Linked DNA regions of Homo sapiens. The protein of the gene in region 1 interacts with the protein of each later gene in a biochemical or structural test. Each region holds a gene or a part of one and is shown in the gene's direction. Other genes may lie near its edges.

What was found.
Region 2: the proteins of G3BP1 (region 1) and USP13 interact in a test that uses a peptide from one of them, tested with the Homo sapiens proteins (one study listed by BioGRID).
Region 3: of the proteins of G3BP1 (region 1) and LCK, one has a biochemical effect on the other in vitro, tested with the Homo sapiens proteins (one study listed by BioGRID).

The regions. Positions count from the first base shown.
Region 1 is NC_000005.10:151,774,921-151,778,571, forward strand, and holds part of G3BP1 (ras GTPase-activating protein-binding protein 1), read left to right. Parts: intron 1-3,651. UniProt on the Homo sapiens protein: Protein involved in various processes, such as stress granule formation and innate immunity. Plays an essential role in stress granule formation.
Region 2 is NC_000003.12:179,651,507-179,655,257, forward strand, and holds the start of USP13 (ubiquitin carboxyl-terminal hydrolase 13), read left to right. Parts: upstream 1-1,533; 5' UTR 1,534-1,719; coding exon 1,720-1,887; intron 1,888-2,151; exon of another isoform or gene 2,152-2,166; coding exon of another isoform or gene 2,167-2,244; intron 2,245-3,751. UniProt on the Homo sapiens protein: Deubiquitinase that mediates deubiquitination of target proteins such as BECN1, MITF, SKP2 and USP10 and is involved in various processes such as autophagy, endoplasmic reticulum-associated degradation (ERAD), cell cycle progression or DNA damage response.
Region 3 is NC_000001.11:32,268,207-32,271,857, forward strand, and holds part of LCK (tyrosine-protein kinase Lck), read left to right. Parts: intron 1-3,651. UniProt on the Homo sapiens protein: Non-receptor tyrosine-protein kinase that plays an essential role in the selection and maturation of developing T-cells in the thymus and in the function of mature T-cells. Plays a key role in T-cell antigen receptor (TCR)-linked signal transduction pathways.

The DNA.
Region 1 (3,651 bases):
AGCTATTTACTTTTTTTAAAAAAGTATTCTTGGACATCCTGTCTGTCTTTAGTTGGGAAGGTCAAGTTGCAAGCCAGGTGATAGGGTTAAGAGTAGGAATAATTCACACACACGAATAGTGTCTTAATATTCTGTCTTACAAGGTGGAAAGCAATTTCAAAAAAATTGCCCTCACAGCCTGTAGCTTAGTAAATAAGGTCTTTAGGCGACTTTGTGATAGAGTCCCTCTTCTGTCAGGTGGCCAGTCTGTCATGTAATAAGTTCTTGGTATGTGTGTTGTATCTTAGGTACTTAATCAAAAGTAAAGATTAAAGATGATTGACAGAAATTTGGCTTCCTGGATGGTATACACATCTACTTAGTAGGGATGTAATCTTTGGTGGCTATTAACTTCACTGGCTATATAAAGCATCATTATGTATTTGTGTAACCTTTTGCATATTTAGAGAGTGCTTTCACACATCTTTGGTATTACCATACTTTTACTAAAAAGTGAATTGGAGCTCTGAAACCGAATTGTCAAAACTATTTTGAAAAGCATGTGGTACCTAATAGGGTACTATAGCCAGCTTATTTCCTTAATTGAAAAATCTTAGAGGGATTTTGAATCTGGAATGTATGAATGTGACACCTGCCTGCCCTTGCAGGCTTCTCCCATATGCTGTTTATGCAAAGCCATAGGCTGTGCCTTAAGTACACCCTTGTTTCTGCACTGAGGTTGCCTAGATTTCCCTGGAGTGTATCCACCTGTCTTGATCTGTTTAAGAATTTTGCGGATGAGCATTAGTATTAACTGTAACATATCTTTTCACGTGATGAGAAAGAACAAAGATTTTTTTAAATTGTGAACCTGAGTAGGTTTTAACTTTGGAGTGGGGAAGGGATACACTAAGATAAAAGATAGTTGTTAAGTATTCTGATTCCTGAAGTTTTTTTTCTTTCAGGAAAACAGTATTTTTGAGATAAAGTAAGATTTGTGGAAGAGTTGCAATAGAGAGGTCTTGAATACCCATTATCCACTGTTAACATCTTATGTAATCCAAGTACATTTAACAGAACTGAGAAATTAACATCGATAAAATACTGTTAATGAAAGACTTTATTTGGATTTCCTTAGTTTTTCTACTAATGTCCTTTTTCTGTTCTAGGATCCAGTCCAAGATGCCACATTGTATGTAGTCTCCTGATCTGTGTCAGTTTCTGTCTTTCCTTTTGTCTTTCGTGACCATGACACTTGATCTCATTTGGATTTGATGTTAAGGATTAGACTGAAGTTACAGATTTTTGGGGGAAGAATACCACAGAAATTACCCTTATCACATCAGATTGGGGGTCCATAATATATAACTGGTTGAATTTAACCTGATGATTTGGTTCAGGTGGTATCTGTCAGGTTAGTGTTTTTTTCCCCTTTAGATACTATTCCTTAGATGCTAGTCACCAAGTCCAGCTCACACTCAAGGAGAGAGGGGAATTAGGCTCTACTTTCTAGAGGGAGGAGAATGTGAATTTGTGGAAGTATATTAAAGCTACTGTTATTATTTTGGGGGAGATGCTTCGAAGCCATGGAAATAAAGTTCCCCTCCTTAATTTTAGCATTTTAATGGATCTCGTCTGCAGCTATTATTACTTCGGGGTTCTAATGGTGATTTTTTTTATTTTCCTCATTCCTTCTACAGTATAAATTTTCTGTGAGGAAGATTTGTGTATTCTTCATGTTTTTTCTTTTTTTCATTTATATCACTATAGACCACGGATATTAATTTTATTCTTTGGGTTGTAATCCACAATTATCCTTGCTGATGTTTACTTATTTTTGATTATTATTTATTTTATATTTTTATAAAATATCGTCCAGGCTGTCTCACACTCCTGGGCTCAAGCAATCCTCTTGTCTTGGCCTCTCAAAGTGCTGGGATTACAGGTGTGAGCCACTGTGCTGGCCACAGTTTATTTTGTTGTTCATGTTGTTCCAGCTTTTTTTTTTTTTTTTGGCTCCTTTGTCCTTTTGACACTTCCCTATCTTATCTGTTTTTTAAAAGCATGTTTTTTCTTTCATTAATTACCAGGTATTTCAGGCTCATCTTGCATTTTGCCTGTCTCAGGTCCAGAATCAACCATTTCTCCAAGGAGGCGTCAGGAAGAATTGTGAAGGGAGGTGACAGGTGGTAAATGCGAAGAGTTTGGAAAAATAGATTGACAGTAGGCCCAGTGATGTTGATACTTTTCTTGCTCTGAGCACAGATGTTGGCTTCTGTATTCATGTTACTCCAGTTCTGGGAAAAGATTTTGTTTCTAAATTCCCACGATTTAGAGAACCAGATATCAAATGTTTGAATACATGACATAATCCTGAAACAAAATTTACAAAAATTTAATATATTCTCAAGTTAGTACACACAAACACTTGCTGTTTTTCCTTGGTGTTTTTGACAACTTTTTTAAAGTAAAAAGACCACTTAAATACTATCGTACTCAGAATTAACATTTGACATTTTGCATTGCCCTCTAAGACTCCTTTTTTTCTATACGGGCTTCCATTCCCTTCCTTCCAGGGATCTTTTTCACATCTTTCCAGGCTGTTTTATTGATGGGGAATTTTTAAAAATAGCTTTATTGAGGTATAATTGACAATAAACTGCATGTTTTTAAAATGTACTGCCTGATAATTTCAGACACCTTTTGTAATCCCAGCTTCTCAAAAGACTGAGGCAGCAGAGAGGATTACTTGAGCCCAGATGTTTGAGGCTGCAGTGACCTATGGTCATGCTACTGCACTCCAGCCTGGGCGACACAGGAGACTCTTAAAAGAAGGTATACCCATGAAACCATCACCACAATCAAGATTGTGAACCTATCCATTACCCCCAAAAGTTTTCTCATGTCCCTTTTCCCTCTTTCTTGCTTGTTCCTTCCACCCTTCTCCCTGCAGGAAATCCTTGATCTTTTTATCACTGTAGATTACTTTGCGTTTTTTAGAATTTTTTTGTAAATACATTATGTTCTTTTTTTAATTGCTCAGTGCTAGTCTGTTGTGTAGGCATATCACAATTTTTTGGTTTACCTGTTGGTGGGCATTGAAAAACGGCAGAAGCTGTGTGTTTCCAGCTTTTTGACTGTTACAAATAAAGCTTCTGAACTTTGTGTACAAGTCTTTGTATGGGTATACGCCTTTATTTCTCTTGGGTAAATGCTTAATAGGGGAATGTTTAGATCATGTAGTAGATGTATGCCTAACTTTTAAAGAAACTCCCTGTTTTCCACAGTGGTTGTACCATTTTACATTGCCACCAGCGATGTTTGGGGGGTTCCAGTTCTGCCAGTATGTTGGCTAACAGTGTGTATGGTCAGTCTTTTTAATTTTAGTCATTGTGACAGGTGTTTAGTGGTACCTCACAGGTTTTAATTTGCATTTCTGTAATTGCTAGTGATCAGCATTTTTCATTTGGCATTCATATAATTTCTTTGGCGAAATATCTTTAAGTCTTTTGCTCATATTTTATGGGATTGGTTACTTAATTATTAATTTTTTTGTTTTGAGACAGTGTTTCGCTCTTGTTGCCCGGGCTGGAGTGCAGTGGCGCCATCTCTGCTCACTACAACCTCTGCCTCCTGGGTTTAGGTGATTCTCCTGTCTCAGCCTCCTGAGTA
Region 2 (3,751 bases), on another chromosome or scaffold:
TATAAAGTTATGACTGGTATTATTACATTTCCTTCCAAAGAGGTTTATCGTTTTTATCCCCACCAACAATGTAATGAGGGTCTACTTCCCAAACCCATGCTAACTCAATATATCTTTACCAGCCCAAAGGATGAAAAACAGTGTCTCACTGATTTAATTTGTATTTAATCTAAGATTAAATTTTAAGTTTTGTAAAACCAAGTTTATCTCTGTAATTGGAGAAAACATCATCCATTAACGTGAAAGGTAATAAGCTGATGAGACTAAATTCAAAGCAAAAGCTCGCTGAGAGGATCTGCCCAATGAGGAAGATGACAGTAGTGTCTGATTTTTTGCTCAGTGCCACCTCCTCCTTTTCCAACAGATAGCATTTGGGAGTGCTGAGTTATAAGAAAGTGTGGTGCGCTCGAGGCTTGCTTGAGGGTATGGAAATCTTGAGATAGGTCTGGAGAACCAGGGAGAGTTAAAAGAGAAAAAAAGTAAGAAAAAAAAAAGAACTTAAGGACTATCTGATCTGAGAGAGGCTTACAAAAATTAGCGTTTTGGTTCACTATTTCTCGCTATTTCTGCATTTCATTAACTGGCAGGGATCACTGGATACTCTGTCATGAATACATATGTTGGGTGTAGTTAGAGAACCTCAATGTCATTGAACCCGTCTTGTGGGTTTTTTGGAGAGAATGAGAGTATGCTGGGAGACATGCTCTGCTTGCAAATGATCAACCCCCGAGGCCAACCCCATTCATCATTTATTTTGAGGAACTGATGATCAAGACAGGAATATGTATGCCTGCCTACAAAATCCTCAAATCAGGCCACTGAATGTTCGACATGAGAACTTTGAATCACATAGAAGATACTCCAAAGGCAGAGAAAAATAGAAAGCCTTCCGACGCCCTGAAAAAATCTTGACCATCCCTGACTTCCCCCAATATGTAAGAAAACCTGTATTATTATTACACACACACTCCCACACACACCCCGCCCTCCCCCACACACACACCCTCTATCCTCACTCGATCTTATTCTATTCGCTCTATTTTTGAGCCTTGGATGTTAAAGTAAGGAACGAAGCTTAGTGGGGAAGCACTGAAGTGCATGGCGCAAATTTAGATTTAAGCCTCACGTTAGATTTCAGATTTGCACATCGAGTCCCGCCCCTATCCAATCCGGGGACGTCACCGCCCTAGTCTTCGGCTGTTTTAAAAGCAAGCGGTTTTTAAAACCCCCAATCCTGCTCTTTGTGTTGGCCTCCTCGGAGTTGCCCCTCTGCAAGCCAACAATTCGGGATAGAAAACACCTCCGTGGTGTTTTCCCGGGGCCCTCCCGCGCCGCGTTCGGCCGCCAGCCCGCTCGAGCTCCCGCGCCAACGCCTCAGGGGTTCGCCCTCCGCCCCCCGCCGCCGCGCCCGGCCCACGCGCAGGGCCCCTCTCCAGCGCCCCCTCCCCGGCACGCTGCGGCTGGCGCTCCCCAGCCCCGCCTGACGCTGCAGCTGGGCCGGAGACTCGCCATTGGATTAAAAATAGCGTCGCCAGTCCGCCCCAAGCCCGCGGTGCCCGCTCCCGCCCCGCAGCCCGCTCTCCCCGCCCGCCCCGGCTCGGCCGGCTGCCGTTGCCCGCGCAGCCCGCCCGTCAGCCCGCTCGCTGGCGCCGCCGCCGCCGGCAGACCCCGCGCTCCGGCTCCGGCTCGGCTCGCTCGGCTCCGGTGCGCGCCGAGGCCATGCAGCGCCGGGGCGCCCTGTTCGGCATGCCGGGCGGCAGCGGAGGCAGGAAGATGGCTGCAGGAGACATCGGCGAGCTGCTAGTGCCCCACATGCCCACGATCCGCGTGCCCAGGTCCGGCGACAGGGTCTACAAGAACGAGTGCGCCTTCTCCTACGACTCTCCCGTAAGTGAGGCGCCTCGGGGGAGGGTCGCGGGGCCGGCGGCCTGCGGCACGTGAAGCCGGGGGAGAAGATGCGCAGTGGCGGCCGGGACCTCTTCTCTTCCTCCGGGCGGCAGAGTTGGCTCAGGAACACTGCAGTTCGGCAGACACTTAGTGAGCGCCCCAGGGCTGCTGCAGCCGAGGACTGGCTCGTGCTGGTGGTTTTGCTCCGCCAGCCTCCCCAGGCTGGAAGGGCCCGATTCCCAGCAGCTTGCACACAGCCCCGCCGCCGTTTAAAGATAGATGAAATACAAGAGTTCCCTGTTCCGAACTGCACGTTGCAGATCGTTTGCGTCCTCCGCGGGGCAGAGCGCAGGGCGGGTAGGTGGACGGGATGATCCCCCCACACCCCGGGACACACACAGCCCTTCTTTTTCTGGGACCACTTGCTTTGCTCAGGGATCCCCACTTCTGGACAATTCTGATTTGCTCTCTGAGCTTTTCTTCCACCAGTTCCCATTTCACCCCACTCCTTTTCTTGTCTTTAGAATGTCAGGGCCAGGCGCGGTGGCTCACGTCTGAAATCCTAGCACTTTTTAAGAGGCGGAGGCGGGCGGATCGTTTGAGGTCAGGAGTTCGAGACCAGCCTGGCTAATATGGCGAAACCCCATCTCTACTAAAAAAGAACCCCAAAATTAGCCGGGCGCGGTGGCGGGAGCCTGTAGTCCCAGCTACTCGGGAGGCTGAGGCTTGAGAATCGCTTGAACCGGGAAGGAGGAGGCTGTAGTGGGCCGAGATCGCGCCACTGCCCTCCAGCCTGGGCGACAGAGCGAGACTCCGTCTCAAAAAAAAAAAAAAAAAAATGTCAGACGAAACCTTCCGGTGCCTCCACTCGGGCAGCAGAAATAGGGGATCTACTGGATTGCGATGGTTTTCTTAAGCCTTCCCCACCTTGCCCTTCTAAATGAGTCACTTGGACTGACATGCGCAAGTATAAATTATTAAAAGTTCAATCCCGAGTCGTGACCTCGGAGAATGAGGAGGAAGCTGAGAGGGATCGCCGCCTTCCACCCGGGGCGGTTGGTGGTGGTTTTCACCTGGTTCTATGTGAATGTGTGAGAAGCAGCAGGAGGGTGAATGTCCCTTTCAAAAGTCAAAATGGGCTTCAAAGTGACTCAGCTGTCTGGCGTTTATCATGTCTTTTTGAGGACCAGGTTATTTTTATCCACCCACTTTAGATCTCATATGTCACCCGGCAGATCTCAATGCATTGGGAGGCGCATGGATTGGATGGACCGAGGCAGGTCTCGCAATGGTCTAATGTATTTTATTCATAGCATGTGGACTATTGTCAGAGGGGAAAAGAAAAGTCCAAATGAGCGGCAACATTTCCAAAGTTTCCTTTATTATCTGTGGGTTGATTTTGGCTGGCTTCAAAGCACTTTTGCTCGACACACACTGGAGTATCAGAGTTAGTATCCTCTCTGTGACATTTAGTTTTTTTATTTATGGTAACTCCATATCATTTGAGGGATGAAACCTAACTTAATTTTTGATTGTTTACTTTTTTTTTCTTTCGAAAAGATCCACAGAGTGGAGTGTGACAATCGGCAGTCCTTTTTTAGGATGTTATCCATAAATTATTTGAAAATGCCATTTTCAGATTGTATGGCCAGTGTTGGGCAGTTCCCACTAATAGCTTCTAAAGGTGGAGAGGGATGATGGTCCTAACTTAAGCAATTGACAGATTGTTACCTCCAGGAAGAAGAAAGTGGCCTAAGTTTTTTAGGATAGCACAACATGGAAAGTGGGTCAAATGACTTTCCCCATGTTTTGATTTGGGCTCTTCTTCAAGTTCTGCTTACAAACTTTGCTCTTGGAAGTTTTT
Region 3 (3,651 bases), on another chromosome or scaffold:
AAGAAAAAAGTAATGAGAGAAATGCAAATGCAGAAAGAGAAATGCAAATGCCTGGCAGTATGTTGGGCTTCTTTTCAAAACTTAAAAAAATTTATTATTATTATTCATTTATTTATTTACTTTAGACAAGGGGTCTTGTTCTGTCACCCAGGCTGGAGTGCAGTGGTGCAATCGTAGCTCACTGTGGCCTTGAACTCCTGGGCTCAAGTGATCCTCCTGCCTCAGCCTCCCAAGCACCTGGGATTATAGGCATGCACCACCATGCCCAGCTAGTTTTTATAATAATAATAATAATAAGAGGCTTGCTTGAGGTGATGGATAGCTCATTTATCCCTTTTGTGATTATTACACATTGTATGCCTCTATCAAAATATATCATGTACCCCATAAACATATATACTTACCAGATACCCATAAAAGTAAATAAATAAATAAGTAAATAAATAAATATACAAAATTAGCCGGGCGTGGTGGCACATGCCTGTAATCCCAGCTACTTGGGAGACTGAGGTAGGAGAATCGCTTGAACCTGGGAGGCAGAGGTTGCGGTGGGCCGAGATCGTGCCATTGCACTCCAGCTTGGGCAACAAGAGCAAAACTCCGTCTCAAAAAAAAAAAAAAAAGAAAAGAAAAGAAACAGGAGTCTAGGGCTGGGCACAGTGGCTCATTGCCTGTAATCCCAGCACTTTGGGAGGCTGAGGTCAGGAGTTCGAGACCAGCCTGGCCAACGTGGCAAAACTCTGTCTCTACTAAAAATACAAAACACAAAATACAAAAATTAGCCAGGCGTGGTGGTGCACGCCTGTAGTCCCACCTGCTTAGGGAGGCTGAGGGAGGAGAGACAGAGCTTGCAGTGAGCCCAGATCACACCACTGCACTCCAGCCTGGGCAACAGAGCAAGTCTAAAAAAAAAAAAAAAAGGAAAGAGAGAAAAGAAACAGGAGTCTAGGCTGGGCATGGTGGTTCACGCCTGTAATCCCAGCACTTTGGGAGGCTGAGGTGGGTGGATCACTTGAGGTCAGGAGTTCAAGACCACCCTGGCCAACATGGTGAAACCCCCATCTCTACTAAAATTACAAAAATTAGCTGGGCGTGGTGACACATGCCTGTAGTCCTAGCTAGTCAGGGGGCTGAGGCAGGAGAATCACTTGAACCTGGGAGGTGGAGGTTCCAGTGAGCCAAGTTCACACCACTGAACTCCAGCCTAGGTGACAGAGTGAGATTCTGTCTGTTTTTTTTTCTTTTGAGATGGTATCTTGCTCTGTCACCTAGGCTAGAGTGCAATGGCGTGGTCTCAGCTCACTGCAACCTCCACCTCCATGGTTCAAGCAATTCTCCTGCCTCAGCCTCCCAAGAAGCTGGGATTACAGGCGCGCACCACCACGCCCAGCTAATTTTTGTATTTTTAGTAGAGACAGGGTTTCACCATGTTGGCCAGGCTTGTCTCGAACTCCTGACCATGTGATTTGCCCTCCTCAGCCTCCCAAAGTGCTGGGATTACAGGCATGAGCCACCGCGCCCAGCCGAGACTCTATTAAAAAAAGAAAAAAGAAAGAAACAGGAGTCTAAAGCAAAGGAGATTAATTACCCAGTCCCATTCTTCCACCTTCCAAAGCAGGAGTTGGTAGGACAGAATTGTGCACTGGTGAAAGTGTTTCTAAGCACTAAACTAAGCTAACATTCATGTGAGCTTATGAGAAATGGATGAAGAGCCCCATTTGACAGAAGAGGAAAAGTGAGGCTTAGGAGGAATGATTTCAGCAAAGTCACACAGTAAGTGTCAAAATTGCTATTTGAACTTAGGTCTCTAACTATGGGGACAGTCTTCTGAGTTTTGCTAATGAGAAACTTCCACTGCTCCCTGCTTCCACTTAGACCCAGCATGAATTCTCTCTCTCTGTCTCTCTTTTGTTTTTTCTTTTTAGACAGAGTCTCTGTCACCCAAGTTGGAGTGAACAGTGCGGTGGCAGTGGCAGGATCTAGGCTCACTGCAACCTCCACCTCTTGAGTTCAAGCAATTCTCCAGCCACCATGCCCAGCTAACTTTTTTTTTTTTTTTTTTTTTGTATTTTTAGTAGAGACAGGGTTTCACCATTGTTGGCCAGGCTGGTTGTCTTGAACTTCTGACCCCAGGTGATCCACCCACCTTGGCCTCCCAAAGTGCTGGGATTACAAGCATGAGCCACCGTGCCCAGCCTGCTCTTTTGAGATGGAGTCTCGCTCTGTCATCCAGGCTGGAGTGCAGTGGCTTGATCTCGGCTCACTGCAACCTCTGCCTCCCGGGTTCAAGTGATTCTCCTGCCTCAGCCTCCTGAGTAGCTGGGATTACAGGCGTGTGCCACCATGCCTGGCTAATTTTTGTATTTTTAGTAGACACGGGGTTTCACCATGTTGGTCAGGCTGGTCTTGAACACCTGACCTCGTGATCCACCCGCCTCAGCCTCCCAAAGTGCTGGGATTACAGGAATGAGCCATCGTGCCCGGACTTTTTTTTTTTTTTTTTTTTTTTTTTGAGACGGACGGAATCTCACTCTGTTGCCAGGCTGGAGTGCAATGGCGCAATTCCGGCTCACTGCAACCTCTACCTCCTGGGTTTAAGCGATTCTCCTGCCTCAGCCTCCTGAGTAGCTGAGATTACAGGCACCTGCCACCAAGCCCGATTAATTTTTGGATTTTTAGTAGAGGCAGGGTTGCACCATGTTGGCCAGGATGGTCTCGATCCCTTAATCTTGTGACCCACCCGCCTTGGCCTCCCAAAGTGCTGGGATTACAGGTGTGAGCCACCGCGCCTGGCCTTTTTTTTTTTTTTTTTGAGACAGGCTCTCGCTCTGTTATCCAGGCTGGAGTGCAGTGGCACAATCGTAGCTCATTGCAGCCTTGAGCTCCTGGGCTCAAGTGATCTTTTTGCCTCAGCCTCCCAAGTAGCTGGAACTACAGGCATGCCCCATCACACCTGGCTAATTTTTTGATTTTTTTTCTAGAGATGAGGTCTCACTATGTTGCCCAGGCTAGTCTGGAACTTCTGAGTTTGAATGGTCTTACTGCCTCAGTCTCCCAAAGTGCCGCGATTACAGATGTGAGCCACCACGCCCGGCCAGCAACTCCAGCTTTGCTCTACTCCAAATAGGTTGTGTGACTTTAAGCATACCTCTGTGGGCCTCAGTTTGCTCATCTAAAATCAGAGGTTTAGCCAGGTATGGCAGCTCATGCCTGTAATCCCAGCACTTTGGGAGGCCAAGAAGGAAGGATCACTTGAAGCCAAGAATTTGAGACCAGTCCGGGCAACATAGCAATACCCCCATCTCTAGAACAAATAAAAAATCACCTGGGCTCAGTGGTGCCAGCTACCCAGGAGGCTGAAGTTAGAGGATCACTTGAGCCCAGGAGTTTGAGGTTCCAGTGAGTTAGGATTGGGTCATTGCACTGCAGTCTGGGCAAGAGAGTGACACTTTATCTCAAAAATAAATCAACAAATAATAAAATTGGAGATTAGGCTTGCTGGTTTCTAAGACCTTTGCAGATGGGAGACTCTATGCATTAACACTGCATGTTCCAGTTGACATTTATTAACTAATTTTGGGTGCTGGTGGCTTTCAGACAAATAAACTACAGCTTCTGCTCTTGATGAACCCCCACTCTCATCAAAGGTAT